4 separate regions of the Homo sapiens genome follow, and regions 1, 2 and 3 are each linked to region 4. Evidence: fine-mapped expression QTL. A gene starts in region 4. Each other region holds a variant in brackets. All regions are shown on one strand. Distances are from middle to middle.

Region 1 (8,000 bases), 22 kb after region 4:
TGTATGGTTTGGACACTCTTAATGCCTCTCTTGGAGCACTGCACTTTACAAAGCATTTGCACGGAAGCATCGCACTTCATGTCCCTGACAGCGCTGTCAAGCAGACAGGTGCCCCGTCCCCGCGCAATCAACGAGGAAACTGACTACGACATCCCCAGTGAAACAGAAACAGAGGCAGAGCCTGCACTTGCATCTCCGGATACTAAGTCCTTGGCTGTTTATACCTCGTTCCAGTTGCCTGGTAAATCCAGGGGAGATCTGAGGCCCTGGAGATCCTTTCTGTCCCCTTGCAGGGAACTTGTAGTCTGGGATTTGAGTCTCCCTCTGTGAAGGATTTAAAGGCAAAACAAGTCTCTGATGTTTTTGGAGTGGAAACCTGCTTTCCCTAGAGCCTCACTTTACTTCATCTGCAAAGCAGGGGAGGGTCCCTGCTCCCGGGCAGGGCAAGGGTTGTGGTCACCATTGTCAGTAACAACCCCTGCCTGTGTCTGCCTCGAGTCATCTTCACTGAGCATGGCACTTTCACATTCATCACTGAGATCAACCTGATCTTCATAACAACCGGAGGAGGAAGACAGCGAAGATGACATTTGCCCCATCTTTCAGAGAGGTGAAGCGCCCTGCCCATGATCACACAGCAAGTTAAGGAACCAACAGGGACCCAGGGCTCCTGATTCTCCCGCTGAGAGGATACCCTCCGCTCGATCAGGCGTTGTCCTCTACGAGGTCAACTTCTGTTAGGACATACCCAACTCTGAGGCCGTGGGGCCCTACACACAGGAGCATGGCGGTCCAGCAACGTTAGGGGGCTTCCCCAGGATGCTCAGCAAGAAGGGTTGGGCTGGTGGGAACCCACAGCTCCTGCGTCCTAACCTCTCTGCAGGACAGGGTGGGATGGCAGGGAGACTAGGTGATGAGGGTCAGCAGGGGGTCCCAGGACAGACTGGTTCTCAGGGCAGCCTCCCTGGCAGGGACAGGGGGTTAAAATGGGTTTCTAGAGCCCCTTTTTCTTTTCTGTCAATCACCAGCTGTGCAAGCTCCTCTGAAAGATGGGAATAACACTAGTACCTGCCTCATCAGATTGTCATGAAGATTAAATGGCGTGAGGTAGGTAGAGCAGAGGCCAGCATCTGGCAGGAACATTCACTACTCACCCACTTCCCCACGTGCTCTGCCAAGGAGGGCAGCTTGGGATGAGTGTGTGCCTAGGAACACAGGTCCCCTCCCGATATTCCTGAAGGGACGTGATTTGTAACTGTGAAAAACGCAATCCAACTGTCAGAAGCAGATGGCACCAGCCGGGTAATCTGTGACCTCGGAGTGTCGTTCCTTTGATTCTGTACCAAGACCACTCTGCCGCGTGTGTACCAGGCTGGAAAGTAAAGCGTGCCCCATGGCATACAAGCCACACCCTGCCTGTGGCCTTGCCCGGCAGGAAGGGGGCTGCAGGGGAGCCCCTTTACTGGGCTGTGTGTTTCTGTGGGGGCTGGATCCTGCCCTCCAGGGGGCCACTCTCAGTGCCTGCTCTCTGTGCCCCTGTGAGGTTTATCTGACCAGTGTGCAGGGCTGCCGAGGTCCCTGGATGAGACAGGCATTGGGCAGGAAGCCCCGGGCTTGATGCTGGGCAACACGCCCATGGGTGAGGTCTGGGTAGGGTGTGGGAAAGAGTGTGGGGGGCGGAAGGAAGCTGGACCTGGCCCTGCCTCCGCTCTCACCCTCAGCCAGGCCCTGCCAAGGCTTCCTCCCCCAGGAAGACCTCCTCGGTTCCCTCTCTGCATTGAGGTATGGCCTGCTCCTTCTTCCTCCATCTTTTCTGGAGTCTAAGCTCCCTTCTGACTTTCCCCTCTGACAAAGGGGTTAGATAGAAAAGTGAGAAGTCTCAAATTCTGTAATCCCGAGAGCCCATTCCTCTCCAGACCCCGCTAATACACAGTGCGGACAGAGCGTGTCCAGTCAGGTTCCAGGACAATTTCTGATACAGGATGTGTGGAGAAAATGGGTTACTTAAAGCGCAAATGAAGATTTCTCCTGTGGGGTCCAGAGCTTAGCTGAAGTCCTTCCAGCATCTGGATCCCAAAGAGGGAGGCTGCATGCTGGGGACAAGGGCTGATGTCGGGGATCAGAGAGGCTTCTCTATGTTGAGGTCCAGAGTCGGGCATGCCACGGAGCAGCCACCCCTGGAAATGGGATCTTTCAGCCCAAGAGACCCTCAAAGGCTTTGGGACAGAGAACTCCTTTTTTGAGGTCCTGTTATTCACTGCCCCCCAGTTGTGAGTGAATCTAAAGGGAGGCCTGTGGGGCCCAGCTAATGAGCTCCCTTTCTTCTGGCCAGAGTTTGGGAATCCCAGGGAGCGGGGAGGAGGTTCTACTCCCAGCTTCTCAAGGTAGCCAGAACGACACGTGGGCCCCAGAGCTGGGGACAGAGCTCCCTCTCCAGGCACTTCATTGAGAGCTACTGGGGCTCTAGTCTGGTTTCTGGCTCCTCTGAGGGTGCCCCTGGCATAGGAAGTTGTCTAGGGGCACACTGAGCCCTGGGTGGAACAGGCGTCCTGACCTTGGGATCCATGTTTGTCCTTCAGTGTTCCACAAGCTGCCTGACACCATGGGTGGTCATTTGTGTGTTTTTCTGGGGAGAAGGCCCGCACCTTTAGTCTGCACCTCAGTGCCTCCCATGCCCCTAAAAAAGGCTCTATGCTGGGCTCATGCCTGTAATCTCAACACTTTGGGAGGCTGAGGCAGGCGGATCGCGAGGTCAGGAGATCGAGACCATCCTGGCTGTGGTGAAACCCTGTCTCCACTAAAAATACAAAAATTAGCTGGGCATGGTGGTGAGCGCCTGTAGTCCCAGCTACTCGTGAGGCTGAGGCAGGAGAATGGCGTGAACCTGGGAGGTGAAGTTGCAGTGAGCCAAGATTGCGCCACTGCACTCCAGCATGGCAACAGAGCGAGACTCCGTCTCAAAAGAAAAAAAAAAAAAAGAAAAAGAAAAAAAGAAAAGAAAAGGAAAAAAAAAGGCTCTAGAAGCTCTGGTGCAGTACAAGGCGGGTCTGCCTGGAAGTGTGGTTTCATATTTTGTTGGTTTGCCAGGTTTAGCTGCAGAGAATGCAAGTTCTCCCCACTTCGGAGACCGCGGCTTGGTGACCTGGGGTTTGTGCTTTGTGTCTTCATTGCTGAGCTCCTTGTGCAGTT[A/G]CTTGTTCTGCTAGAGATTATAGCATTTCTTTCGTCTTCCCAGCTCCTGCAATGAGGTGAGGATGCCTCTGTTCTGAGGAGCCTCAGGTAGGGTGCTGGGGCTTGTTTGATTCAATAGTTGGAGCTGAAATGAATCCGTTATATAGAGAAGAAAGCTGAGTCCCCCCAGGGTCAAGTGACTGACACAGGCCCACATAGCTGGTCCAGACTTAAGGTTCTGGATCCCGGGTCCTTTCATCCTGTTATTCCTCAACCTTCCCTGTTGCTGTGGGAACAACAGAAGGGGCCAGAGAGGGTTAATTCTAGTAATTTTCATGCAGCAGCCGTGTAACCTACTGCACACTGCCATCCTACAAGCATGGGTTCTTGTCCGTGCATTATAGCTGTGGCCCAGAGTGGATGGTTCTGTTGTCTGACCCCAGAGTCCCTGAGTGTCCCACAAAACTATCCTGTTCCTTTGGATTTTCCTGATCTCTTTTTGCATCACCACAGGCTTCTTTGACTCCAGGAACAGCCCATTCATGTCAACCAAAATTCTAAATTCAGCACCTCAGAAGTATGACCAGCAAAACCGATCTGACACTAAGTCCCACTGGCCCCCTACTTTTAGTGGACAAAAAGGCCTCACAGGCTTCGTCTCTCCCAGGAATTTGAGGAGTTCAGAGATGAGGAGAGGGGATTGGACACAGCAAAGCCTGGCCTGGCAGAGAGGGGGGTGGGCGAGCCTCACCCTGAGAAGGTGTTTCTTCCTCCTTATGGCCGTGGTCCTTTTTGATGTTAGATGCTTTTGTTTCCCAGGTGTATGGGGACCTGGGACCTGTGGGTTTTGGAGTGCTTGTCATGACTAGGCCCAGCTTTGGGGACAGGGTGGGGACGACTACTCCCAGGTTCTCAAGAGGAAAAAACTTCTGTACATTTCAGAAATGCAATAGATCTGTTATCAGCTCTACGCACTGCAAAACGCAAGTTCCTTTCTTATTTGATCTGACAGTGAAAAAATTCACAGATGTTTTATTGGAAGGTTAGAAAATAAAAAAGAACCCTTTCTCAGTCCAGGTAGTCTGCCCCCCATCACCTTGGCGTGTCTGCGGCTGTGCTGGGCCTGGGCTTGTGCGTGGATGAGGAGACAAGGCTCAGAGTGGAGCAGGGGGAGGCTCGGAGGCCTTTGCTTTGCAGCCCCACCCGCAGGCTCAGCAGGGTGGGCCCCTGTGCTAACACTCACCCCCACCCTGCCCCTCAGTTCTTGTTTCCATCTACCTTCGTCCCTCTCACCAGTCCCAACGCAGAGGGCCAGGTTTTCTTTAGTTTTCTTAACTACGTCTTTTCTTCTGGTTGGGAAAAATAATATTTACTACCTCTTGTACAGTTTGGAAATACATAAAATATGTAGAAAAAAATTAAATGTGGCTGGACGTGGTGGCTTGTGCCTGTAATCCCAGCACTTTGGGAGGCCAAGGCAGGCAGTTCACCTGGCTGTTGGTCAGGAGTTCGAGACCAGCCTGGTCAACATAATGAAACCACGTCTCTACTAAAAATACAAAAACTAGCCAGGTGTGGTGGCGGGTGCCTGTAGTCCCAACTACTCAGGAGGCTGAGGCAGGAGAATCGCTTGAACCCAGGAGATGGAGGTTGCAGTGAGCCGAGATCACGCCATTGCACTCCAGCCTGGGTGACAGAGTGAGACTCTGTCTCAAGAAAGAAAAAAAATTAAATCAGCTCAGAATCCCACAAGGCAGAGGTCTCCCCAGTAACCACCAGCTGCAGAGGCTGTGTGCCTCAGTTGCGTGCCAGCTGATGACCTCCTCAGCACAACCAGTTAAACCTTTATTTATTTCAGCTTTTCTCTATCTTTATAAAGCTTTTCCCCCCTTCATTGTGAAGATAGCATGCTCATTGGAGACAATTTGGAAAGCACAGAAAGATATTTTCATGCTTCTTTAAGCAAAGAGAGGAAATTTATTCCCATCTCCCCAAACTGCCATCAGCAGTTTGGAGTAGCTCCTGGTCTTTGTGGACTTTTGAAAAAGCACATGTTGTCTGGGCGCAGTGGCTCATGCCTGTAATCCTAGCACTTTGGGAGGCCGAGGCGGGTGAATCACAAGGTCAGGAGATCGAGACCATCTTGGCCAGCATGGTGAAACCCCGTCTCTACTAAAGACACAAAAATTAGCCGGTCGCAGTGGCGTGCGCCTGTAGTCCCAGCTACTCTGGAGGCTGAGGCAGGAGAATCACTTGAACCCAGGAGGCGGAGGCTGCAGTGAGCCAAGATCATACCACTGCACTCCAGCCTGGGCAATAGAGCAAGACTCTGGCTCAAAAAAAAAAAAAAAAAAAAGCATATTTTTTCCAGTTGAGAGCATGTTCTATAGAAGATTCTGGGTCCTGGTTTGTCACGCGACAACAGAGTAACATAAGCATTTCCCATGTTAATACAAACAGCAGTCCTCACGTATGTTCTGGGCTCATGTGCACAGACTCTACCCAGCACTGTGCAGGCACCATCTTGCTCAGTTCTTGAGAAACCTTATGAGGCAGGTGTGGTTATTAATTTTGCAGACAAGGAAGCCGAGCTGACCTCATCTGAGGTCTGAGAGCCAGGGAGCAACAGGGGATTGGCGTCGAAGGCTCAGCCAGCTTAGATCCCTGCTCTTAATCACTAGGTTATCTCTCCTGTGAATTTTTAGTGACCTTTCTAGTTTTGTATAAAACCAGAAAATGACCTTTGTTAAAAATTCAGGAATTACTGAACAGCATAAAGAATATTCAGAATCCTATCACCCAGTGATATTTATTCTGGCAATTGGCAGTTTCTTGTGCATAGTCTTCATATTTTTATAGTTGATGTTATCCTAACCTTTCAGTTTCGAATGTGGTGTTTTTTAAATTTATTTTTGTATGTATTTCCCAAGTCATTAGTTCCTCTTGGCAAAACATAATGTTTATTGATGGTTTGTCCGTCCATTGAGTGGTCGGTCTTGATGGGTGTAATCACTTCCCTGAGGTTGGGCTTTCAGGCTGCGGCTCTCTGAAATAATAAATAATTTAGGAATCAATACGTTTCTGCACAAAATGGTTTGTGTATTTCTGACAATTTCTTTAGGCTGCGCATATTCCCAGGAACTGAATTGCTGGGTTGAGGGTTTTTACAGTTCTTAACTTATATTGCCAAATTATTTTCCAGATGGTCCGTAACTCTTTACTCTTCAATTAGCAATACCCTGTTTACTCCTAACTAGATGAATATGTGACCTTGTTTTAGTTTGCACTCCTTTTATTTCTAATGAAGCTGAATTTCTAAATGTGTTTATTGGTCACTGGTGAGTCTTCTTTTGCGCACTGTCTAAAGCAGTGCTTTCCAATCAAGCTTTCTGCAATGATAGAAATGGCCTGTATCTTCCTGTTTAATAGGGTCCACGTGGCCTATATCTGCCTGTCCAGCAGCAACCAGCCAAATGTGTCCATTGAGTACTTGAAATATGGCTAGATAACTGAGTAAAATTTAAATTTAATTTTATTTAAATTTAGACTTAATTTACCTAAGGTTTTAATTTAAACTTGATTTTAATTTAATTTACCTAAGATTTTAATTTAAATCCTAAATTAATTTAAATTTAAATAGCCACATGTGGCTAGTGGCTACTATATTGGATAGCACACTCCTAAGCCTTTCCCCAGTTAGGCATTTGGGTCTCAGTGGGTGATTTATATTGATTTGTATGAGCTCTTTATTTATGATGGCTACTAATCTTTTTTATGTTTGTTGCAAAGATTTTACCCCACTTGCTATTTGACCTTTTTTGTTCAGGTTGTTTACAGGGTATCAAAATGTTAGGTAGCCAAATCTAGTGATCTTTTTTTTGTGGTTTCTCCCATAGCTTTAGGGTTAGAAAGTCCTCCCCCACACAGAGGTTTGATAAATACTCTCATCAACTTTTTTCAAGTCTTTCTGTGATTTTTTTTTCCTTTAGCTCTTTAATCCACCCAGAGTTAATTTTGCTGTGTGCTATGAGGTACAGCGTGTCTTAGTCACCTCTCTGCTTGGTGCAGAATATGTACCGAGTATATTTTATCTTAGATGGGACAGTTGGGTGCTCTGCTGGTTGGGTTTGGGTGGGTGGTAGGTAAGCAGGATGAAATTAGATAGTAAGTAAACTACTGCTATTTAAAATATTGATCTCTTTTTAAATTTTGTTGTTTATGAAGACTTTAATGACAAAAGAAAATGAATCTGATACAGTGTTGTTTTCAAAGAGAGATGCAAAATCACACCTACAATGTAATATGAACCATGTTTATAAACGCAATTAAAATATTGGAAGAAATATCCCAAAATACTAATGGTAATTGTCTCTGGGGGGTTGGTATTTTTTTTCCTGCTTCTTAACAATTCTATACTTCCCCAGTTGACTACAGTAGTTTTGATTATCTGAAATATTATTAAATACAGCATTTGGAGAAACAATGCATGATCACTTCCTACCTCTAACTCCCCACAGCCGTCATCCACCAAGTCTGCAATTCGCACAGCCACGCTCTGTGCTTAGGGCAGGCGAGTTGGCAGGGAAGGGTCCTCCCTGGCTTTCAGTTCAGGCTGGGACTGGAATTCCTTTGTAGTCACTCACAGCATGTGAGTTTCTTGGGCAAGTGATAGAACTCAGGACTGTTTCCTCATTCCTAAAATAAATATTGTAACAGCTTTGCACAGGGCCAGTGAGGATATGTTTCTTTGTTAATTATATAGGCGTGTGCACACACACACACACACACACACACAGTATATGTATGTGCAAAACTGCAGATATCATCAAGAC
Region 2 (8,000 bases), 41 kb after region 4:
GCACCCCAGGCACACACCACCATGTCCAGCTAATTATTATTATTATTATTTTTTTTTGTAGAGACGGGGTCTCGCTATGTTGCCCAGGTTGGTCTCAAACTCCTCGGCTCAAGCAGTTCTCCTGCCTTGGCCTCCCAAAGTACTGGGATTACAGGTATGAGCCACAGTGTCCGGCCATAATCAGTGTTTCATACCATCAGATCTGGTACATGGATTGAAACCTGTTTGCTAATTCCAGTCTACATGGAGCCAACCACTATGAAAACCTGGAAACTTGGTTGGGTTTTTTAGCTTTTATCTTGGTCTCTGGCTTGATTGAATGTAGATGCTCATGGGGTAGAATCTGAGCGCTCAAGACACGACCACCCAGTGCCTCCTGAAATATCACTGTTAGTCACTCCTTAGGGTGCCCTTTCAAAGTAGGAAATGCGGGAATCTTTTTGAATAGCACCTTCGTGTGGATTTTATAGCCTAAGAAAGGGTCCTGGGATAGCAGCAGAGCTGGGAAACTTTGGGAAGGGAGAGAAGGAAAGATGGAGGGCTCGACCCTCTCTGCAGACTTCCAGCCGGGGGACCAGCCCTGGATTGAAAAACAGGCAAGTGGCCAGGCGCGGTGGCTCACACCTGTAATCCCAGCACTTTGGGAGGCCGAGGCAGGCAGATCACCTGAAGTCAGGAGTTTGAGGCCAGCCTAGCCAACATGGTAAAACCCTGTCTCTACTAAAACTACAAAAATTGGCTGGATGTGGTGGCACGTGCCTATAGTCCCAGCTACTCAGGAGGCTGAGGCTGGAGAATCACTTGAACCTGGGAGGCGAATGTTGCAGTGAGCAGAGATCACGCCACTGTACTCTAGCTTGGGCAATAGAACGAGACTCCGTCTCAAAAAAAAAAATATAGTAAAATAGGCAAGCAATGATGAAGAGGACACATAGCAACAGGGCCTCTCACATCCACAGGTCACTTCCCAGTGTACAAAGCGCTCTCATTTAAAAGATGAGGAGACAGACACAGAGAAGCTCAGCCAGGCATCAGTGCCACACAGCAAACAGGCAGAATTGTCAAATGTGACCCTAACACCCAAGACCTTTCCACAGCTGAGTGAAGTGTTGTCATAGATCTCCTAGTTGTCAAATTACTTTCCTGCTTTTTTTTTTTTTTTTTTGAGACAGAGTCTCGATCAGTTGCCCAGGCTAGAGTGCAGTGGCGTGATCTCGGCTCACTGCAACCTTCGCCTCCCGGATTCAAGCAATTCTCTTGACTCAGCCTCCCGAGTAGCTGGGACTACAGGCGCCCGCCATCATGCCTAGCTAATTTTTTATTTTTGTAGAGACAGGGTTTCACCATGTTGGCCAGGTGGTCTTGAACTCCTGACCTCAGGTGACCCGCCTGCCTCGGCCTCCCAAAGTGCTGGGATTACAGGCGTGAGCCACCACCGTGCCCCACCCTTTTCCTGCTTCTTTCCTGACCACACCATCAGCAGGTCTGTAACTGCTGCTTCTCTGCAGCGTCCCAGAACTAAGCACGTGAATGGCACACGTGAAATAGAAACATGATGTGTCTTTCTCACTCGTGGTCCATGGGGCTTGGCCCCATCTCCCCAACTGGAGGGAAGCTTCTCGTGGCACCATGATCTCGGGCTGTCCCCTCTGCCCACCTCCAGCCTTCCTAACAGTGCTCCATGGTTCAGTGTGGCTTCAAGTTGAAAACATGGTGGGCAGGAGAGGTTTTGGGGGCTGGGAGTAAAGTGAAGTGGTTGACCTGGCCACTGTTTTTTAAGCCTCTGCGACTGGTTTGGTTTAACACTGAAGTGGAATCTGTGTATTAAATGCTGTAATGCCTTAAAATTAACTCCCCCGAGAGCATCTGCCTAATTTTTCTCCTTTGGCTCTATGTAAGTTGCCTTGGCAGGGTCTCTGCGAATCTTAGTCTTCCATATGAAAAAGTACTGCTTGCTAAGTATAGCTTATATCCTGAGCCCCAGGGAGAAAATAGAGAAAAGATTTCCGGTAAAATCAACCTCCGTAGAAGTTCAGTAGAGGGACCTCTTCACACTTGCCCCGGTTCTGATCCTGCATGAACAGTACTTTATCCTCTCCTCCTCTTCCCTGCTGCAGTCTTATGCTCCATGCAGTCCCTCTTCCAGGGAGCTGCTGGACTCATCTCCACGCAGTAGGAGTCTGGCTGCATCACCACTGCCCTCCTCTTACTGGAAACGCTTCAGTCCAAGTTCTGTAGCTCTGTGCCCTGACTCTGCCCTGTCTCACACACACCAGGCAGGTCACGTTGGTGGATTAATGGGACTGGATGAAGGGGACATCAGGCAGTGGAAGTGGCTGTACGGAAACAGGGTGAAGGCTACACCCCATCTAAAGAGAACCAACCCAACTCTGATTATTGCCATGGAAGAATATGGCCTCCATGTTTCCAGATCCTGATTGTTCAACATAATTTTGGGAATCTGAGTTTTTATATGAAATAGCCTAATTTTCAAGCGTTGGTTTATATATATATCTTAAAACACTATATGGGCCATCAACAAAGCGTGTCTGTGGGCCACACACCCACATGTTGGGACCACTTTTGCCCTTTGCTGTGTGGCCCCAAGATGTTGGCAGCTCTCCATAAATGCCATGCCCTTTCCTCTCTGTGACTTTCTCCGTCCTGATCCCTACGCTGTCTTTGGCAGGTCAGCTTGTCCTCATATAGTGCTTGTAACAGCTATGTGACTTTGGGCCAGTTACTCACCATCCTGATGCCTCAGTTCCCTCCTCTATGAAGTGGGAATAAGGGTGACTGGGAAGAATACGTGAGTTAACAAATGCAAAGTGTTAGAAAACGCTGCACATATTGTTCATCAGTGTCATCATCGTCATCATCCTTATTATTGTCCTCCATCTAGTCTTGGCTGTCACCTCTGAGATGCCTGCCTAGACTCCTTGAAAGCAGGCTGTCCCCACCCCACCCCAATTCTGTAACACCCCAATCCCCACAGCCATCTCACTGCATTATCTGTTGGCTTCTCAGTACGCCCTGGACTGTGGGCACCTTGAGAGGAGGAATATCTTTCTGTCCATACACAACTTCGAACAAACACTTGGCCCAGAAGAGGCCTCCATAGAGGCTTACTAAGTGGATGCACCTTTCATGAATGGTGGTCTGGAAGCCTGATACCACTTGATATTTCCATCCAGATGTTATTGTTACCACCCAGGCCAAGAATGTGCTTCTTCTGGAGGCACAACAAGGTGGGGCTTGTCTGGCTGCACCACAGCATAATATCTATCCCTCCTCACAGCTCTGCTCTCTGATGGAAGCAAGGAAACAGGAAGTGAAATTGACAGGCACTGACCAACCTGGTTTCACATCAGGGGTGAATGAAAAGGACGAGCCCCCCTCCCTAGGGTGGGGCGGGAGGGAGGTGGGAGTGGGGGTGGGGATGGGACATGAGTCATGATGTGTCACTGAGATTTTTTTGGATGCATTTTTCAGTTTCAAAAGCATGAGGCGTTATTACTATGGGTTGAGAACCTGGAGTGCCAAATGACTGTGTCCCAAACAGGATGGCGCAATTGGTGTCTGGTAAAGTACCTGGGAGTTTTCTTTGTTCCAAGTGGGGTTTGTGGCTCAGCACAGGGGCCTTACAGTGATGTTATGGTCCCCATACAGTAGCGATCCGGAAGATCTGTGCCCTGACTAATTCTTCTGCCCTTGAGCTGGTGTTTAAAAGAAAAAAAAAAACCCTCTGTGGTCGCAACCAAGATGTAATGATAGACTTTGAGCCCCGAGAGTCTCACCCAGCCTACTCCGGCACGTTTTGGGATGCTGCGAAACTGAATTGAGGTGCCTGTCATCATAAGAGAACTGAACGAGTGGGGGTAAGAATTAAGATCAGCAAGAGCTGTGTTTCTCGCTGGTTGTACAAACAGGCACTTGCCGGAAGCTGCCTCAGTGGGAACAAGGTGGAGCTTCATGAGGGCCCTGTTGAGTCTTTGCTGGGAATGATGGAGGTTTTTTCCATTTTCTCATTTTCCATTACTCTAATATGGTTATAACCTGGGACTTTTTGTGTGTGGGGT[C/T]CTGGAAGGATGTTTGTGATATTCAGGAGTTCTGGTGGGAGTCGGGTAGGGTGTGGATAGGGTGAACCTGAAACTTGCCCCAAATTTGTGTTCCATTCATCAATACCAATTACCCACCACATCTTTTAGCATTTATTCAAGAAATGCATGTTGTGGCTGGAAGAATATGGGATTTGGAGTCCACTGTGCCTGGTCTTTCCTGGACAACTGGGTTGGACAAATTCCTCTACCTCTCTGAGCCCCGTTTCTTCATCTTCAATAATGCGTTTGTGATGTAGAGCTTTTGGGAAATAATTAAAGGGATGATGTGCAGACAGGTCCAGACAGACTGACCACAAGGCTGGAGAAGGTCAGTCTTAGGACCCTCCCAAGGCCATTTATCTTTTTTTTTTTTTTTTTTTTGAGATGGAGTCTAGCTCTGTCGCCCAGGCTGGAGTGCAGTGGTATGGTCTTGGCTCATTGCAACCTCCGCCTCCCGGGTTCAAGAGATTCTTGTGCCTCAGCCTCCTGAATAGCTGGAATTATAGGCGTCTACCACCATGTCTGGCTTATTTTTGTATTTTTAGTAGAGACAGGGTTTCACCATGTTGGCCAGGCTGGTCTAAAACTCCTGACCTCAAGTGATTCACCCGCCTTGGCCTCCCAAAGTGCTGGGATTACAGGCACCCTTTATCTAATTTTATTTGTGTATTATCATATTTTTTAAAGAGGGACCCCCAAATTGTATAGGCTTCAGGCTCAACAGAACCTGGACCCAGCCTTGATCTTGTATCTTGAATAATGAAGAACTGGCTCTGGGAGTAAGTGCTGGAATCCTGGCTTCATCTGTCGATAGGGTCCCGCTATTGGCATGCTGTATTTGTTCACCTCATATGCAGTTGCTACGAAGAGCATTTACTTATTACCCCAAATGGGAATCACACCCCTGGGACCAGCCACCCTGTGTAGATAATAACTATGGATAATCCTTGCTAGAAAATAAAAGGTCCAAGGTGATATATATATATATATATATATATATATATTATTTTTTAATTTGCTTCAGTGGCAGAAACAGGAGTAGATGTGAAGGGCTTGGTCCTAGTTGAGAAGTTTCTCAACTGATAATGACGGTTAACATGTACATCAGCTACTACAGGATCTCACAGGTGGGGTTATCAATGGATAGGATGAGGATCTGTGAAGTGGGCAGGGCAGAGGTCATCATGATCCCCTTTTAGCAGATGTACAAACAGACCCAGAAAGGTCAAGGAGGTCATTGGAGGATGCACTGCCACGAAAGGCACAGCCAAGATTCAAATGCAAGTCATCAAAACTCCAAATGTAGTGCTCCTTCAAAGCGTACCACATTGCCTCTCCAAGAAGCTGAGCACAAGAAAGATGGCAGGGTGGAGCTGCTGACAAGTATTTGTTCTTTATGCAGAGTGACCCCATTTTAAGGCTGCCTACTGCGGTGGACGAGAGCAGAGTGGATGGTAGGGCTCTGTTTACTGAGCATTTCTGCCTGCTGGACTCTGTGCCCGGTGGAGCTCACGCAGCCCTCTCAATGCAGCCAGGTACACATCAGTCTCTCGGGTTTATGGAGGAGGAATCTGAGGCTCACACAGGTGGCAGAGGCTCTTTGCTTCCTCCACTCTCTTTCCTTAGTTGTCAGGGTTCGAGGTTAATCTGATGAGGTTGGCAACCTCAACTTGTGGAAAACCAAAACCCCAACTGAGTGTCTTTTATTCTTTCTTTCTTTCTTTTTTTTTATTAGAAGAAAGGGTCTCACTATGTTGCCCAGGCTGGCCTCGAACTCCTTGTCTGAAGCAATCCTCCCGCCTCAGTCTCCCAAAGTGCTTGGATTGCAGGCATGAGCCACTGCACCCGGCTGTGACGACCCTTTGATTCTGCGACTCTATTTCTCCTGACTGACTGTTGAATTAAGACTTTGGTATTGCGTAGGAGGAGATTTTCTTGTGTTTTGATTAATGTTGAACGTTACTCATCTAAGAGGTTAATGTGGAACATCCGTTGCAACTAATCTACCTATACACCTTCAGTCGGGGTACTTACCAGTGCTAGGAAGACTCCTAGGATGTCAGGATGAGAAGGGGCTTTCGAATGTGTCTATTCCAGGGGCTGCAAACCTAGGCACCTACAGGGGTCAGGCAGATGTCTATACCCTGTGATCAGGCCAGGCCAGGTACAAGCCAACAGGGTGTGGCAGGGCCGTGGCATTCAAATTCAAGAACGTCAACACTCTACTGACCGAACAAAACTTGTCATATAGAGAAAATGTGGCCCACCTGCTGTCAGTTTACAACTCAAATGCGGGCAGACCCCTTCATCACACCACCAGTTACTTTGCTGAGGTCCTGAGGGTGAAAGTAACTTGCCCGGCTGGGCGCGGTGGCTCACGCCTGTAATCCCAGCACTTTGGGAGGCCGAGGCGGGCAGATCACGAGGTCAGGAGATCGAGACCATCCTGGCTAACACGGTGAAACCCCGTCTCTACTAAAAATGCAAAAAAAATTAGCCGGGCATGGTGGTGGCGGGCGCCTGTAGTCCCAGCTACTTGGGAGGCTGAGGCAGGAGAATGGCATGAACCCAGGAGGCGGAGCTTGCAGTGAGCCGAGATCACGCTACTACACTCCAGCCTGGGTGACAGAGCGAGACTCCGTCTCAAAAAAAAAAAAAAAAAAAGAAAATAACTTGCCCAAGGTCAAGTTAGACCATGAATGAGTTCACCCAGTCTTGTTTGTTGTTGTAAATTAAAAAACAAAACAAAACACCTACATTTGGATGTAAGGTTTTATAGTTTAGTGTGGTCTCACAAATTATTTTAGTGGGTGCTCATGATATCTTCACTTTAAATATAAGGAGATCGAGGTTCCGAGAGTTTAGCTAACTTCAACTCCATGTTGGGTGACCCCATATCCTGCTTGCCTGGGACAGTCCTGACCAACACTGTCCTATCATCATTATTAATAGCTTAAAAGCCTCTTTTACTCTTCAAAGTGTCCTGCTTGGGGGATAAATCACAGGCCACACTATGGGCCTCAGCCCAAACCATAGGCGGGACTCAGCCGTTTTCCTGGCCTCCTGAGGCAACACGCCTAGTGCACGGCTGTGCAGCTCCGACTCCTGATCTGAGACTCTTTCCTCCTGTGTCTTCTTGTGAGAAGGACGGCAAGGTAGGTGGAGCAGTGTGGCTGTAAAAAGGAGCGTGGACTGCGGTGTCCGTCTGACTTGAGTTCGAATCCTGGCCCTGCCACTTACCCGCCTGAGTTACTTAACCTCTCTGAGCGTCATTTTCCATGCCTGTGAAATGGAGGTAGTAACAACAGCTGCTTCATAGCCTTAGTTTGAGGATGCACTGAGAGAATGCACTCTTAGTGCTGTTGAGTGCTTGGAATCGGTTAACCTTGGGCCCCTGGGGGAAACGTCACATTCTAAAACATTTGAGGCAATCTGCAGCCTCTACCAGCACTGACACCTCCCTGAGGATGAGCAATGGCCTGACCAGCTCCCAGGGCAGGAAGCCGGGCCTCGGCCCACATGCTTGAGATGCTGGTGCCCGAGCCAGGCCTGTGGAACTCAGAGGGGTGGCACTGGGGATGTTTGTGACTCCTCGCTTGTTTCATGGAGGAGGTGGGTTTGGAGTTGAGTTTCTAGAGTGGGAAGGTGACAGGTGGGCTGAGGCGCACTCTGGGATCTGGGTAAGACCTGTTTCCCAGGAACTGCAGGGGCTGGTAAGGTACAGCCAGGGGGCTGGGGGTCAAGGAAGGCTGAGCCGGTGAGCCTGCCAGGGACACGGGGCGATGGGTGTTCTCCAGGTAATCCAGGGAGAAGCACCCGGACCCTAACCAAGCTGCAGCTCCATGGCAGAGGAGCCTGAAATCCAGCCTGGCTTCCTTTGGGGCTGTTCAGCATCTCCTG
Region 3 (8,000 bases), 77 kb after region 4:
TCCGCCTGCCTCGGCCTCCCAAAGTGCTGGGATTACAGGTGTGAGCCACCGCACCAGGCCTCTTTTACCTCTAAATGTGTCAGTACTCCAGTGTGTATTTCCTAAAAGCAAGACTATTTTATTACATAAGTATAGTACACTTTTCAAAATCAGGGAACTAACACTGATATAACCCTGTAGTCACTAGACCTCCTTCCTGTTTCACTGCCTGTCCTTGTAATGTCCTTTATGGCAAAAGAAAACGTCAGGTCATGCCTTGCCTTCACTCGGGATGCCTCTTTGACTCTTTTCATCTGAAACAGTTTTTGAGTCTTTGTATTCTATGACATTGGCATTTTTGAAAAGTACCTGCCAGATATTTTTTAAGATGTCTAAAAATTCCTTTTTAAATAAATTTAAGTTTTAAATAAGTGAGTCCACTTAAAGAAAAACTATCAAGTGACCCAAAGAACAAATGGTCTACAGATAAAGCAAAAACTGTGAAGATGTACATGGATTACAGTTTTGACAAATGTTGCCTTAAATCAACTTCCTTCTGCCCCTGGGGCTTCATCCCACTGGGATGGTCAGGCCTTGGGTCAGTGAGTTAAGAACAGTCAATAAAGTGGTGACACAAGGCTGTGCCAGCCTGTGTGCAGGGAGCTCACTCTCGGGGGCAGAGTCAGGGTTCTGGGCTCTCTGCCAGATACTAGTGAGGGGCTGGGAGGAAAGTGTGCTTTTGGGTGCGTGCAAGGTGCATACAAATCTCAAACATGTCTCAGTGAAAGAACAGGCAGGCCGGGCACAGTGACTCATGCCTGTAATCCCAGCACTATGGGAGGCTGAGGTGGGAGGATCGCTTGTGCCTAGGCATTTGAGAGTAACATGGTGAGACCTCGTGTCAAAAGAAAGAAAGAGAGAGAGAGGAGAGGAGGGAAGGAAGGAAGGAGAAAGAGAAAAAGAAAGAGAGAGAGAAAGAGAGCGAGATAAAGGAAGAAAAGAAAGAATGGAAAGAAAGAATTAGCTAGGAGTGGTGGCGTGTGCCTGTAGTCCCAGGTACTTGGGAGGCTGGGGTAGGAGGATTGATTGAGCTTGGGAGGTCAAGGCTGCAGTGAGCTATGATCATATCACTGCACTCCAGTCTGGGCAACAGGGCAAGACCCTGGCTCAGAAAAAAAAAAAGAAAAAGAAAGAAAGAACAAGCCATAAAATCAGGAAAGGAGAAGAGAGCTTGACAAAGCAGTAGGAAGACTTGAGTATGGGCAGAAGAGGTGAGTTTCCTGGAACAGGAAGGGAGGGAGGGGATCTTGGGGTTTTTACTGGGCAGAGCTCCAGGGTTAATGCTACTGCCATCACCCATGTACTTCAGAGGGGTCCCCACAGCCAGAGGGGCTTTGATGTTAGCAGGAGGACTTGGCTGCTTCCAGCCCTACACTAGCTATCCCCAGGGTAGGTGGCCTGGGGACGAAAGGCTGCGGTGGGTGGCCTTGCCTGGCCCTGGACCACAGAAGGGCTCTCTTACAGGATGGGTTGTTCTTGCTAGAGGGTGAGCGTGGGCATGAGCTGAGAGGGTCCTGCAGGGACAGACATGCGTCTGGGGCTGTACATCTCTAGCATGTACCGAGTCTCTCCTGCTGCACGCAGGATGCACCCACCTAGTCTTCAGGTTGCCAAGAAGGTGGGAGGACTGCAGGCAAGGGCAGCAAACGCAGAGCAGACTGCAGGAAGTCACGGCACCGGCCACAGAAGGGGGAAAAGAGGGTGACTATCGGAGTGATGCGATGAAGGGTATTGCTGTGTCTTGGCTATGCAGAAAAGTTGAGGGGGGCTACTGACCCCAGTTATTTTAGTATCTCATCCTCAGATAAGAAACAGCCTTCACCTGCCTTGAAACCAGGGCAGAGAGTGAGGCCTGGAGGGAGGGATGGTCACCCCAGAGGGGAGGCCATGGGAAGGAAGCGGAGCCCCATGGACCCAGTGCTGTTGTTTCTAGGGAGAGCCGTGTGTGTGACCTGGAGGCCATGGAGGGGAATGTGTCTGTGAGTGTCTGGACGAGGATCATTTTGTCTCCCCACTGTGTGGAAGAATGAAGAGGAGGCAGTGATTGTGGGCCTGGTCGGGCTAAGCGTAGGGAGGGGAGGCAGGAGACCTCGCAGGTAGAGGGACTCTTTGTGAGCAGGGGGCTTGAAGGAAAATGAATCTCAGCCAGAGCCCATGGCCCTGGGGACCACTCCCTCCCCTCCCCCTCCTTCTGCACTTGGTGGGTGGCTGGGCAAGTGGGACGAGCTGGGGGAAGGGAGCCAGGGAGGGGGCACCTGCCCTCAGCCAGGATAGGGCCCGGGTCCTCTGCGGAGGGGGTGGGGGATCCTTCCCCAGGACAGAACGTGTCATGGTCTCCCGGCCTCCCACCCACCCTCTCCCCCTCCAGCCTATCACCTTTCCATCTTCTCTCCTCCCCGCCCTCCTGCTTGCCCCGTGGTAGCTGCACTGACTGGCTGTGAACCTGGCTCCCCTGGTCCTAGCTGGGTGACCTTGAACTAGTCCCATGACTTCTCTGGGCTTCACTTTTCCCACAGGGAAGGTAACAGACGTTAGGAGACCTTAAGGCTCTGGGAGGTTTTGAGAATTAAGTGAGGCCACAATGTAAGGGGTCCAGCAAGTGCGGGGTTCGGGGCCAGGGAAGACAAAGGCTTTGTCTGGCTGCTCCTGCCTTCCACTGTCTGCTCAGGCACACCGCTCCCTCCCTCTGTCTTCCTCTTTTCCTCTCTGTCTCATGACTCTCTCTCCCCACCCCCCGCCCCCCTCCTTTGTCTCCCTTTGTTGCTATTTCGGTCCTTCCTCAATGATGTTGGTGAGAGGTGAGCCTCTTTTCATGTCAGGATGCCAGAACTCCGTCAAACTGGTAAACAGCTGAAGGATGTGGCGGGAGATGAACTTTCCACTGAAGCTTCTTTCAACCCATCCCTTCCCTGGGGCTCCCCTGCACCTCCCCACTCTGGAGACTCCATCCCATCCTCACGAAGCGAGGACGGGGGGCCGGGGA[C/T]GGCGGCCAAGAGAGGTCCACGCCAGGTGGCCACACGGGCTCCAGCCGCTCTGTCCGTTCACCAGAACCATGAAGAGGGTCTTTGAGAGGGGCGGAAGTGGAAACCGCAGATGGGGCGATAGGGAGGGGTGGGGGATGGACAGGTGTACGTCGGAGGTGAGGTTTCCAGGGGACAAGGTTAGGGACCCGCAGGTGATGCCCTGCCAAGGAAGGAAAGCCAGTACCTGTGCTCCCTGGGAGCAGCCTCGGAGCCTGAGAGCCACATCCATGTGGGCCCTGGTGGGATAATCCTGCCAGAGCGTGCTCCTGACCTGGTCCCCTTGGGCTCTCTCAGATGTCTGGAGGATGCCAATTAATTGTGGGGCCTGAAGAGCTGTGTGTGGCTCCAGCTGGGCATTGGGAGGCACAGAAGTGAGCCTTTGGTGTGGATTGTACCTTCACATGGAAAGGAGGAGGGCAGGGGCAGTGGCAGCCAGGGCCCAGCCACACCATGTTCAGCTGATAGCCCTGGGAAAAACTGAACATTCTTGAGCCTGTTCCCTCAGTCATAAGATGGGGATGATGCTGGTTCTTCATGGGGCTGTTGAGAGCATACATGAGTCAGTACCTGCAGTGTGCTCAGAACAGTGCCCGACACACAGGTTCTGAGTGTGCCCTCAGGAATCGAAGCTATCATTAATGTCACCGTCATATTGTCATCATGGCTGGAGGCTGCTGTGTTGGAAAATCATCTCCCATGTCTGTGATCACTCTCCAAGTCCTGAATCCGTCTCCAACTCGTTCCCTCTTCTCCATCTCCCAGTGCTGACCACCCCCCAGCTGGCCTCCCTTCCTCCAGGCCCCAGCCCCATCAAACCTCCCTCCGCTTCATAGCGGCAACCTTTCTAGAGCATCCGTCTCATCGGATCACTTCCCTGCCTTAGAAACTGCTCGCAACTCCCAGCAGGTCTAAGACAATGACAAGGGTCAAGTTACACAAGACCCTTGGAGATGCTCCCCATGGTCTTTCCCACCTGCGCACCCCCTTTTCCCCTGGCCTTCAGGCGGCATGCACCATACTTGCACGTGTTGCTACTGAGAACATCCTTCACTCATCCATCCAGCAAACTCCTACACAACCTTCAATGGCCGACTTGATTGTTCCCTCTTTTGTCATGCTTTTCCCACTAAACCCTGGCAGTTAGTGGCTTCTTCCTCTCTGTCCACACAGCCTCTGTAGTGGTGTGGTGGAGCCCTACATGAGGCAAAAGTTATCTGCTTGGACAGCATGTGGGAGAAACTCAAATATGGGTAGCATCACTCTTCCCTTAGGAACGTTATCTGGGATACCAGAGAAGTAAAAAGAAGCAAGGAGCCCAAGAGGGTGCCCGGACGTCATTTCTGTATAAGAAGGGGTAGGCAGCAAGAGGGGTTCACATCTGCTTCTTTCTACATCAGAGACACAATTGTGTTTACCTTGGGTGGGCCGGGTGGGGAGGAAGGGGCAGGGTGGAGGGGGCAAGATTTTAATGGTATGAATTCATGTTGTTGGAGTTTTAATACGGTTAAGGTATTTCCCATTTTAAAAAAAGAAAGGGCTGGGCCCAGTGGCTCATGCCTATAATCCCAGCACTTTCGGAGGCTGAGGCAGGACGATCACTTGAGGTCAGGAGTTCAAGACTAGCCTGGCCAACATGACGAAACCCCATCTCCACTAAAAATACAAAAATTAGCTGGGCGTGGTGATGTGTGCCTGTAATCCCAGCTACTCGGGAGGCAGAGGCAGGAGAATTGCTTGAACCTGGGAGGCGGAGGTTGCAGTGAGATGAGACTCTGCCACTGCACTCCAGCCTGGGTGACAGAGAAAGACTCCATCCCAAAAAAAAAAAGAAAAGAAAAAAAAAAAGAAAAGAGAGAGAAAGAGAAGGAAGGGAGGAAGGAAGGAAAGAAGAAGGAAGGAAGGGATGGAGGGAGGGAGGGTAGGGAAGGAGGGAGGGAGGGAGGGAGGGAAGGAGGGAGAAAGGGAGGGAGGAGGGCAGACAGGGAGGGAGGGAGTGAGGGAAAGGAAAGAACACTCCCTTAGGAAGACGCCTGCATGTGAGTCTGCCCTGCTCTGGCTCCAAACCAGGTGTTTTCCCTGCAGCATTAGAGCAGCTCGTTGAAATGGTGGGCTTTGTTTCAGGCCCACCGTGTATGAAAAATGAATCCCCAACAGCTAAAATCTCACCCAGCATGGCAAGGTACCCACAGGATGAACGGCTTCCAGGATCTGAGGGAACGGAGGCTCCACAGCTCCTGTCTGTCTCCTCCTGGGTGTTTGTTCAACCAAGGGAAATATTGGGCTGGGTTGCCCCTTGTCTTTCTGTTTGCTGCTGAGCACACACTTAAGTTCATGTGGGTTAAACATGCTTATCATGAGCCCTCGCTGTGCGGCGTGGTGTTTTCACACTGGGGCTTTGCAGTGAGGTGGAAAAGTTGTGCTACCTGCCAAGCTGTGTGGCTTCTGGCTAGTCATCTAATCTCTCGGGGTTTCAGTTGCCCTATTTACGAATTAGGGAGAATAATACCTTCTCAGAGTGCCCTTATGAGGATTGTATGAAACAACACATACCTGGCACATAGTAAATGCTACCCACCGTCATCATCACCATGTTGATGAACGGCAGTTACTGGTCTCTCTCTGCCCCAGGTCCTGTAAACTCCCCAGCGGCAAGGGCCAGGCTCCATTCCTTTCTGTGCCTCCCAGAGCTCAGCACAGAGCTGGCTCTATAAGGGTGCCTGGTAGTGATGATTCTACATTCCCGAACCCCGTATCCCAGAATGCAGCCGGTGCCTGTGCTGTTGGTGGGCAGATAGGCCGGTGTCTCCAGATTCTAGGCTGGGGCTCTGGTAATAATGCCCAGCCGTGTGGCTGTGGTGGCACAGGGACACTGGAAGAGCCATGATTAACACTCAGACTCTGAAGCTAGGCTGTATTTAAGTCCCAGCACTGTCATTATTTAGCTGTGTGACCTTGGCTTTTTACTTAACCTCTCTGGGCCTCAATTTTCTCACCCATGAAATGGGGTTGGTGTGAGACTTGACCATCCCCAGCCTCATCTCCTCTCAAACTGGACCTCCCTTGACCTCGCGAGCCGTGCAGTTTCTTGCTGTGTCTTCGCTCGTGTCATTCCCTTGGCCTGGAATGCTTTTCCCTCTCCACGTCGGTGGTTCACTCCTATTCATCCTCTACAACCCAGATCAGGCATCAGCTTCCCAGGAATTCCCTGTGCATCACTCTCTGCCTGAGCTTGCAGAGCTGTCAGTCAAATTGCTGGGTGCTTCCGTTCTGGGACACAGCCTTTCCCCCCACGCCAATGTTTCTGGAACCACTGGGTTCCGCTGCCAAGTCCATTGAGCCTCTTTGTGTTTCCTGTCCCAGATCCTTGAGGCGTATTATAATGAGGTCTCCCAGGAGTGGAGGGGAAGCCACCTGCTTATGTTTGTGACTTCCCTGCCAGGCTGGTGCTCCTTCAGGTCAGAGCCTGGCTGTCATTCATCTCAGCTTTCCCAGTCTCAGCACAGGCCTGGCCCATGTCGGCTCAATAAGGTGCAGGTCCCAGGTCTGAGTCCCTGGGAGACATAGAGACAGGGGCCAGCTGGGATCAGCCCTCCTACTGTGTGTGGTGCTGTTTCTTCAGACTGCCCAGGGCTAGGGCAGAGCTTCCCAATTTCTCAGAGACTGTGGGGGGCCCTGGGTGGGAGAGCTGGGGTGAGAGAGGCAGCTCCGGGGAGGTTGGGGAAATGGGGGTGACTCAGAAGGCATTGCCATCTCCCTGTGTGAGCTGGGGCGGGCACGAGGTGGGGAAGGATTGAATTGTGACTCTGTTACTAACTCTCAGTGACCTTGGACAGGTCCTTTCCCACCCTAGGTCTCAGTGTCCTCACCTGTAAAATGAGAGTGGGACAAGACATTCTCCATGTTCCCCCAACCCTTGCCCCGCCCTGCCCCCAGCACTAACGCACTGAAGACCCCAGGCACTGCTGAGTGCCTCCTGGCTTCCCCTTTCTCCTTTTAAGGAGCGCTCTCACCTGCAGTGATTAATCTACCAATGACGGGGTCATTTACTACCAACCCTCTAACCCTCACCACCACCTGTGAGTTACCCACTACTGCCCACACATTCTACAGACCAACTTACAGCAAACAAAGTCTCAGAGATGTTGAGTGATTTGCCTGAGGCCACACTGCCAGGAGGGGTGGAGTGGGGAGTTGAACACAGGCTTTCACAAGCCCCCTGCCGCTGAGTCTGCCCCACCTACCCCAGAAGTGGCTCCTCCCCTAGGAATCCCCCGCCACCCTGGGGAGGGTTCAGAGGGCCCGAGGAGGGGGCCCAACACTGCCAACCACATCCTGTGACGGTTGCCCTGGGGAGCGCGGCTTTCTCTCCACCTCTGGGACAGGTGAATGGAAAGCAGGCCCCGCCCACCACACAGCCCCACCTCCTTCATGATCCGCCCCTCCCGAGACGGCTCGGAGAAAACCTGAGCCCCAACCCTCACCCCGCAGGCAGAGCTGGGCACTGGCCATGGCAGCAGGGATAAAGTCATAGCCCTGAATGGGCAGAGGACTGGAGGCAATGCCGATTTCTCAGTGCGGATCCGCTCCAGTCCCCTCCAGCGCCACCAGCCTCATCCCCACTTCCTTCTGGGGTGGTGCAATCCTTTTCCAGGCAACTCTAAGCATAAAACTCCCTGGAATTATACTACCTTTGAAGATTTGGGGGCTCAGGCGGGAACTCATTCAGTGCAGTAACCCCTGCCGCTGAGCCCAGGGCTGCTGTGGAGCAGCCCAGGGAGGCAGTGAGGTTGAGTTCTCATAGACCCTGCCTCTCAGTCTGTCAGGTTCTGTTTTCCTATCCCCAGTGTTAAAAAAATGTTTTTGAGATAGAGTCTCACTCTCACCCAGGCTGGAGTGCAGTGATGTGATCATTCATGGCTCACTGCAGCCTCAAATTCC
Region 4 (8,000 bases):
AACCTCCGCCTCCCAGGTTCAAGCGGTTCTCCTGCCTCAGCCTCCTGAGTAGCTGGCATTACAGGTGCGTGCCACCACTCCCGGCTAATTTTTGTATTTTTAGTAGAGATGAGGTTTCACCATGTTGGCCAGGCTGGTCTTGAACTTCTGACCTCAGGTGATCCACCCGTCTTGGCCTCCCGAAGTGCTGGGATTACAGGCATGAGCCACCATGCCCGGTCTTTGGTGCTTGTTTACTTGTGTTCTCTAACAGCTCTCCTGTTAGCTGATCAAATCCTTGAGGGCAGGGACTCCTGCCTTGGTCCCTGTATCCCCAGTGTTTTGCACAGAGCTGGATGCACAGGAGATGCTCAATAATATTTGTAGATGAAAAATGAATGAATTAGTGAATAAATAGCCTGTGCAAGAGGATTGAGGGGTAGAGAGATTGACGGCTGTGCAGGCCTCTGGCAAGACCCTCCTCCCCATTGGCTCCTACCTCGCATTGTTTCTTGCTGACCCTGGTAATAATAATAATCATAGTTGTTGCTGTTATTATTGTTTATTGAGTACTTACTATACTATATGCCAGGATTGTACTTAAGCTCTGTGTGCATTGATTCATTGAATCCTTATAAGCCTCTATGAGGTACTGTTGCACCCAGTTTACGGATGAGAAAACTGAGGCTTACAGAACTAGTCCAAGGTCGCCCAGTTGGTAAGTGGCAGACTGGAATTCAAACTGCAGAGTCCATGACTTTCCCACGTCCCAGTGCTGGCTTTCAGAGTCGCATCGGCTAGGCCAGTCAGGGACGTGCAGTTTGTGTTAGAGCCGCTTCCCCGCCTCACTGCCAGCAGCTGTCCAGGCAGGCTGGGGCTGAGAGGGGAGCAACTGTGGGAAGCCCTGGCCTGTCACTAGCACCCAGGCCTGCTGGGGGCATCTTCATGCCTCAGGATCCAAAGGTCCCCAAGCCCCGATGCCAGCCAGGAGGCTGTGGTGTCCCCAGGGCTCTGGCATTGCTGCCTCTCTCCTTGGAATGGCTCAAAGGGTGCCTGCACTGTTTGACTCCAGCAACCCTGGCCCTTGGTGTCCCCAGCTCTGGTGGCTGTATCTCTGCTGGTGGAGGTTGTGTCCCAGGGCCATTTTCCTGCACACGGAAGTGCCTTTGGTGGCCTTCCCTTTTAGCTAAGGGAGGGGCCTCTGTGAAGGCAGGAATGCTGGGCTGGGGTCAGCTCGGCTGTGCACCAGCTGCTGCACCCTGGGTTTGCACTCGGCCTTCCTGGGCCTCGCTTTTCCCCACTGTAAAATGGGGCCAATGGGCCCACCTACTTCATTGGCTGTTGTGAAGCTTGCAGCAGAAAATGGCTTTAAAAGTGCTTTGTAAACCGTTACCCACTGAACAAAGGGAATGCTTGGTACCCACCGGCTCACTCAGACACTGGGAACTGAGTATTCCTGGGGTTCAAGGAGGTCCCCATACTGGGGTGAAGGGGCTACCTCCAAGTCTTCCTGACTGTGGCCTGTGTTGGGCCAGGGGACTTGCCTGGTGCCATCAGGAGCCTCACCCATGATGGGATTCAGTTGGGAGGGCCCTAGAGCAGGACACGGGTTCCCATACTCAGCTGGGAGCCGCCCTATCTCAATGAAGTCTGAGGCCAGAGGTGAGGAGCAGGTGGGGGGTTTAAGGGCCTGGTCCCTCCTTAGCAGGGTCCCTGAAGCCAGCCAGAGGTCTGTCTCAGGCCTCTTACTTTGGGACAGAAGGCATTTTGTACCTGTTGTTGTTACATGTGAGAAGAACCATGTGAACATGTGTGCACAGGTGCCATTGTCACATGTGTTGGGGAGATAATCCTGCCTTTGGAGGCCGCATTGTGCTCATGAAAGCACACACACACAGTTCTCACACACATGCGCACAGACTCCCACACACAGACTCACACACAGACTCACACACAGACTCACACATTCCCCCCACACAGTACTCACACACATGCCCAGAGACTCACACACAGACTCACACACAGACTCACACATTCCCCCATACACAGTTCTCACACACATGAACACAGACTCACACACAGACTCACACGCACAGACTCACACTTTCCCCCCCACAAAATACTCACACACATGCCCAGAGACTCACACACAGAGTCACACATTCCCCCCCCACACACAGTACTCACACACATGCCCAGAGACTCACACACAGACTCACACACAGACTCACACATTCCCCCCCACACAGTACTCACACACATGCCCAGAGACTCACACACAGACTCACACATTCCCCCCCAGACAGTACTCACACACATGCCCAGAGACTCACACACAGACTCACACACAGACTCACACATTCCCCTACACACAGTACTCACACACATGCCCAGAGACTCACACACAGACTCACACACAGAGTCACACATTACCCCCCAACACAGTTCTCACACACGTACACACAGACTCACACAGACACACATAGACTCACACATTCCCCCACACACAGTTCTCACACACATGCACACAGACACACACACATGCATTCCCCCACACTCACACCTGCACACCCGGTTTCCCTAGAAGGCTGCTGAGGCTCCCTGCTCAGGCAGGCAAGGCCTCCGGACCCTCTCCCTGCCAGCCTGGAAGCTGCTCGCATCCTCCTGTTTCCAGCCCAGAGTCACGCACCTCTGTCACCCTGCCAGACCTTCTAAATCCTCAGGAAGTGGGTCAGGCCTCATCCAGTTCACACCCCCAACCCCCACATTTCATAAATGGGGAGATCAAGGCCTGGAGAGGCTTGGGGACCTATCCGAGGTCACACAGGGTTGGGCTTACAACCCAGGGCTGGAGTGAGAGCAGGCCCAGCGTGTACTCATCCCAGCCGGCCTGGCTGGGCCCCTCTGGGACTGACCCAGGACTGGGCATGAGAGGGCCTAGGACTTCCGCTATGAGTCCTTGACATTTGCTCAGACATCGTCCTCAGAGGCGGCTCCACCCTGCCTCGGCCCACTGTCTGTCCAGAGCATCATCAGAGCTGCCTCGGAGACGGCGAGTTTCCATGTCTCTGGAGGCGACCAAGTAAAGGCTGGGCTGTCAGTGGGGGACCTCGCAGAGGGAGGCCTGAATGCTCTGCTAAAATCCAACTCAGCCTAGGAATCAAGTTGTCTGGGCCCCATCAAATGCGGGTCCCCCCTGCAGTCTCTCTTGCACTGGAAGGGTAAAGCAGGGTTCTCAACAGCGCATGAGAGAGGCAAGGTTGTGCTCCTGGCGGGTGGGACATGCAGGACAGAGGGCCAAGCTGCGGCTTAGTGGGGGCAGGCAGGGATCCCAGTGGCCCCAAATCTCCACAACGCTCCAGAGGGCTGACATGTGGATCCCAGAGTCAGCCTTGGGTAAAACTGGGAACTCCTTCCTTGCACTGGAGCGAGCCCGGGTGTTCGCAGGACACCTGGGAGGGGTACTCACCCAGCATCCCCAGCAGGTACAAGGTGGCCAGCGGTTGCAGAGACCCCATGGGCATGGTTTCTGGCCTTCTCTTGCCTCAGCCTGGGCAGCTGGGCACCGCAGGTGAGGGTGTCTGGCCGGGTATCTCGCTCTCAGAGAGGGAGAGGGCGGGGTGGCGTGCTCAGGGAGGGGTGGGACGGGGAGCAGGCAGTGTGGGGCCTGCGTCACCCATGTTTGAAGTTGAACTGTCAACTTCCTCCTGGCAAAACCACCTGCCCCTGTTTGAATGGCAGCCCTGGCCTCTGCCAGCTTCCTGCCCAAGGTACCCAGGGCTGGGGCAGTGCTCTCGGCCACCCCCACACAGGACAAGGCCATGCATCCTGGAGGGACAGGGCTGCAGGGGGTGGGGACCCTGAGCGGGGGTTACGGAGGCTGAAGGCCTGGCTGCAGCTGAGGGCTGGGCTGAGGACAGGCGTCCCTGAGGCAGGGGTCTGGGTGGGGAGAGGCGGGAAATGGGCAGCATGATGCCAGTTCTTGTTGCAGACTCCAGTGAAAGCCAAAACCAAACCCTCCATTCCCCCTTTGTGAGGGATGAGGTTGGAAGTTTGAGCTGACTTTCCACAGGTGGTGTTTTGCTAGCAAGTACAAGAGATGGCTGCGCCATGAATGCTGGGCTTGTGCCAGTGTGTGTGTGTGTGTGTGTGTGTGTGTGTGTGTGTGTGTGTAGAGAGAGAGAGATCTCCATGTTGACTTGTGTGATCTCTGTGTTGTGTGTGTCATCTCTGTGTTGTGTGATCTCCATGTTGAGGTGTATGTGTGAGCTCCATGTTGAGTGTGTGTGATCTCCATGTTGATGTGTGTGTGAACTCCATGTTGATGTGTGTGTAATCTCCATGTTGACGTGTGTGATTTCTGTGTTGTGTGTGATCTCCATGTTGATGTGTGTGATTGTGATCGCCATGTTGATGTGTGTGTGATCTCCATGTTGATGTGTGTGTGTGATCTCCATGTTGATATGTGTGTGTGATTTCCATGTTGTGTGTTTGTGATTTCCATGTTGATGTGTGTGTATGATCTCCATGTTGACTTGTGTGATCTCTGTGTTGTGTGTGTGATCTCCATGTTGGGGTTGATGTGTGTGTAATCCCCATTTGATATATGTGTGTGTGATCTCCATGTTTGTGTGTGTGAATGTGATCTCCATGTTGATGTGTGTGAATGTGATCTCCATGTTGACGTGTGTGTGTGATCTCCATGTTGATGTGTGTGTGTGATCTCCATGTTGATGTGTGTGAATGTGATCTCCATGTTGATGTGTGTGTAATCTCCATGTTGATGTGTGTGTGTGATCTCCATGTTGATGTGTGTTTGTGATCTCCATGTTGATGTGTGTGAATGTGATCTCCATGTTGATGTGTGTGTGATCTCCATGTTGATGTGTGTGTGTGATCTCCATGTGGATGAGTGTGTGATCTCCATGTTGATGTGTGTGTAATCTCCATGTTGATGTGTGTGTGTGATCTCCATGTTGTGTGTGTGTGATCTCCATGTTGATGTGTGCGAATGTGATCTCCATGTTGATGTGTGTGTAATCTCCATGTTGATGTGTGTGTGTGATCTCCATGTTGATGTGTGTGTGTGATCTCCATGTTGATGTGTGTGAATGTGATCTCCATGTTGATGTGTGTGTAATCTCCATGTTGATGTGTGTGTGTGATCTCCATGTTGATGTGTGTGTGATCTCCATGTTGATGTGTGTGTGATCTCCATGTTGATGTGTGTGAATGTGATCTCCATGTTGATGTGTGTGTAATCTCCATGTTGATGTGTGTGTGTGATCTCCATGTTGATGTGTGTTTGTGATCTCCATGTTGATGTGTGTGAATGTGATCTCCATGTTGATGTGTGTGTGTGATCTCCATGTTGATGTGTGTTTGTGATCTCCATGTTGATGTGTGTGAATGTGATCTCCATGTTGATGTGTGTGTAATCTCCATGTTGATGTGTGTGTGTGATCTCCATGTTGTGTGTGTGATCTCCATGTTGATGTGTGTGTGATCTCCATGTTGATGTGTGTGTGTGATCTCCATGTTTATGTGTGTGAATGTGATCTCCATGTTGATATGTGTGAATGTGATCTCCATGTTGTGTGTGTAATCTCCATGTTGATGTGTGTGTGTAATCTCCATGTTGTGTGTGTGTGATCTCCATGTTGATGTGTGTGAATGTGATCTCCATGTTGATGTGTGTGTGTGATCTCCATGTTGATGTGTGTGAGTGATCTCCATGTTGATGTGTGTGTGTGATCTCCATGTCGTGTGTGTGTGATCTCCATGTTGATGTATGTGTGATCTCCATGTTGATGTGTGTGTGATCTCCATGTTGATGTGTGTGTGTGATCTCCATGTTGTGTGTGTGTGATCTCCATGTTGATGTGTGTGTGATCTCCATGTTGATGTGTGTGTGTAATCTCCATGTTGTGTGTGTGTGATCTCCATGTTGATGTGTGTGAATGTGATCTCCATGTTGATGTGTGTGTGATCTCCATGTTGATGTGTGTGAGTGATCTCCATGTTGATGTGTGTGTGTGATCTCCATGTCGTGTGTGTGTGATCTCCATGTTGATGTGTGTGTGTGATCTCCATGTTGATGTGTGTGAATGTGATCTCCATGTTGACGAGTGTGTGTGATCTCCATGTTGATGTGTGTGTGATCTCCATGTTGATGTGTGTGTGATCTCCATGTTGATGTGTGTGTATGATCTCCATGTTGACATGTGTGATCTCTGTGCTGTGTGTGTGATCTCCATGTTGGGGTTGATGTGTGTGTAATCCCCATTTGATATATGTGTGTGTGATCTCCATGTTTGTGTTGTGAATGTGATCTCCATGTAGATGTGTGTGAATGTGATCTCCATGTTGATGTGTGTGTAATCTCCATGTTGATGTGTGAATTTGATCTCCATGTTGATGTGTGTTTGTGATCTCCATGTTGATGTGTGTGAATGTGATCTCCATGTTGATGTGTGTGAATGTGATCTCCATGTTGATATGTGTGAATCTCCATGTTGATGTGTGTGTGTGATCTCCATGTTGATGTGTGCGAATGTGATCTCCATGTTGATGTGTGTGTGTGATCTCCATGTTGATGTGTGTGTGATCTCCATGTTGATGTATGTGTAATCTCCATGTTGATGTGTGTGTGTGATCTCCATGTTGATGTGTGTGATTTCCATGTTGATGTGTGTGTGTGATTTCCATGTTGATGTGTGTGTGTGATCTCCATGTTGACTTGTGTGATCTCTGTGTTGTGGGTGTGATCTCCATGTTGGGGTGTATGTATGAGCTCCACGTTGATGTGTGTAATCCCCATTCGATATGTGTGTGTGATTTCCATGTTGATGTGTGTGATCTCCGTGTTGAGGTGTGTGATCTCCATGTTGATGTGGGGTATGTATGTGAGCTCCGTGTCCCTGTTGCTCTTAGAGGGTCTGGAATCATCCCCCTTGAAGAAGAGGCAGGGTCTCTGCAAAGAAGATGGGAAGCCCGGGGCAGGGGAAAGTCCCTGTGTTTCCCTGGGCTGGGCTGGGTTCCGTTTTTTCCTCACATCCTTTGTGCTCCCAGATGAGAAAGCTCCTGGCTCCTTGGGCTTCCTGTACTCTGGGCCACCCCAGGCAGGTAGGAAGTAGTTCAAGGACGTGATCACTGGTCCAGGTCCACTAGGGCCTGGGGCCTCCCCATCCCTGGGCTGGAGAGGCTGGCTCAGTGATGCCTCCACTTAGATTCCACTTAGACCTGTAGCAGGACAAGCCACAGACAAAACCCCTCAGACACCAAGTTAAAGAAAGAAGGGGTTTATTCAGCCGGGAGCATCAGCAAGACTCCTGTCTCAAGAGCTGAGCTCTCTGAGTGAGCAATTCCTGTCCCTTTTAAGGGCTCACAACTCTAAGGGAGTCTGCTTGAGAGGGTCATGATCGATTGAGCAAGCAGGGGGTACATGACTGGGGGCTGCATGCACTGATAATTAGAATGGAACAGAATAGGACAGGGATTTTCACAGTGCTTTTCTATAAAATGTCTGTAATCTATAGATAACATAACAGATTAGGTCAGGGGTCGATCTTTAACTACCAAGCCCAGGTGTGGTGCCGAGCAGATTTCATTTCTGCCTTTTAGTTTTTACTTCTTCTTTCTTTGGAGGCAGAAATTGGGCATAAGACAGTATGAGGGGTGGTCTCCTCCCTTATTCCCCTCTTTTGAGAATCTCACTCATGAGTGGGAGTTCTCACTTTCATTTTCACTACCATGTCTTCTTGCAAGACAGATCAATAGTGATTCACATAGTACACTTGGGCTGAAGCATTTTGGTGAACTAAGGTAGCGATGAAGCTTTTTATCATTTGAAGAAGTACAGGTAGCAAACAAGGGAGCAGTAAGCAGGTTCCTATTACTATTAAAACTCCTATTATAAGAGTTTTAAATCCTCCTAGTGCTGGGAACCATTTTCCAAACATGGCCCCAGGATCAAATTCATGCCACACTTGCACGGGCACATGTGCCAGTTTTGTCCTATC

The links.
Region 1: its variant is fine-mapped to the expression of CD5 in whole blood (TOPMed, PIP 0.94).
Region 2: its variant is fine-mapped to the expression of CD5 in whole blood (TOPMed, PIP above 0.99).
Region 3: its variant is fine-mapped to the expression of CD5 in whole blood (INTERVAL, PIP above 0.99).

The regions. Positions count from the first base shown.
Region 1 is chr11:61,075,861-61,083,860 of GRCh38, reverse strand. All of the region lies in intron 1 of LOC105369325 (a long non-coding RNA gene), which reads left to right. It overlaps LOC124902677 (a long non-coding RNA gene), which reads right to left. Exons shown (of 2, transcript XR_007062690.1): 1 at 7,670-8,000; 2 at 5,952-6,214. Among named protein-coding and RNA genes, the nearest start is that of CD5, 23 kb to the left of the region's middle. The variant A/G (reference allele first, on the strand shown) is at 3,190.
Region 2 is chr11:61,057,018-61,065,017 of GRCh38, reverse strand. It overlaps LINC02954 (long intergenic non-protein coding RNA 2954), which reads right to left. Exons shown (of 4, transcript NR_186234.1): 3 at 3,143-3,307. The region is part of intron 1 of LOC105369325 (a long non-coding RNA gene); the gene reads left to right. Among named protein-coding and RNA genes, the nearest start is that of LINC02954, 5.6 kb to the right of the region's middle. RefSeq lists enhancers at 3,008-3,247, 3,598-3,837, 2,903-4,102, 7,788-8,000. The variant C/T (reference allele first, on the strand shown) is at 4,080.
Region 3 is chr11:61,021,273-61,029,272 of GRCh38, reverse strand. LOC105369325 (a long non-coding RNA gene) reads left to right here. Exons shown (of 2, transcript NR_188502.1): 2 at 1-410. Among named protein-coding and RNA genes, the nearest start is that of LINC02954, 30 kb to the left of the region's middle. RefSeq lists a silencer at 537-596 and enhancers at 2,525-3,090, 7,589-7,638. The variant C/T (reference allele first, on the strand shown) is at 3,023.
Region 4 is chr11:61,098,064-61,106,063 of GRCh38, reverse strand. CD5 (CD5 molecule) reads right to left here and starts at 3,575. Exons shown (of 11, transcript NM_014207.4): 1 at 3,449-3,575. The coding sequence starts at 3,503.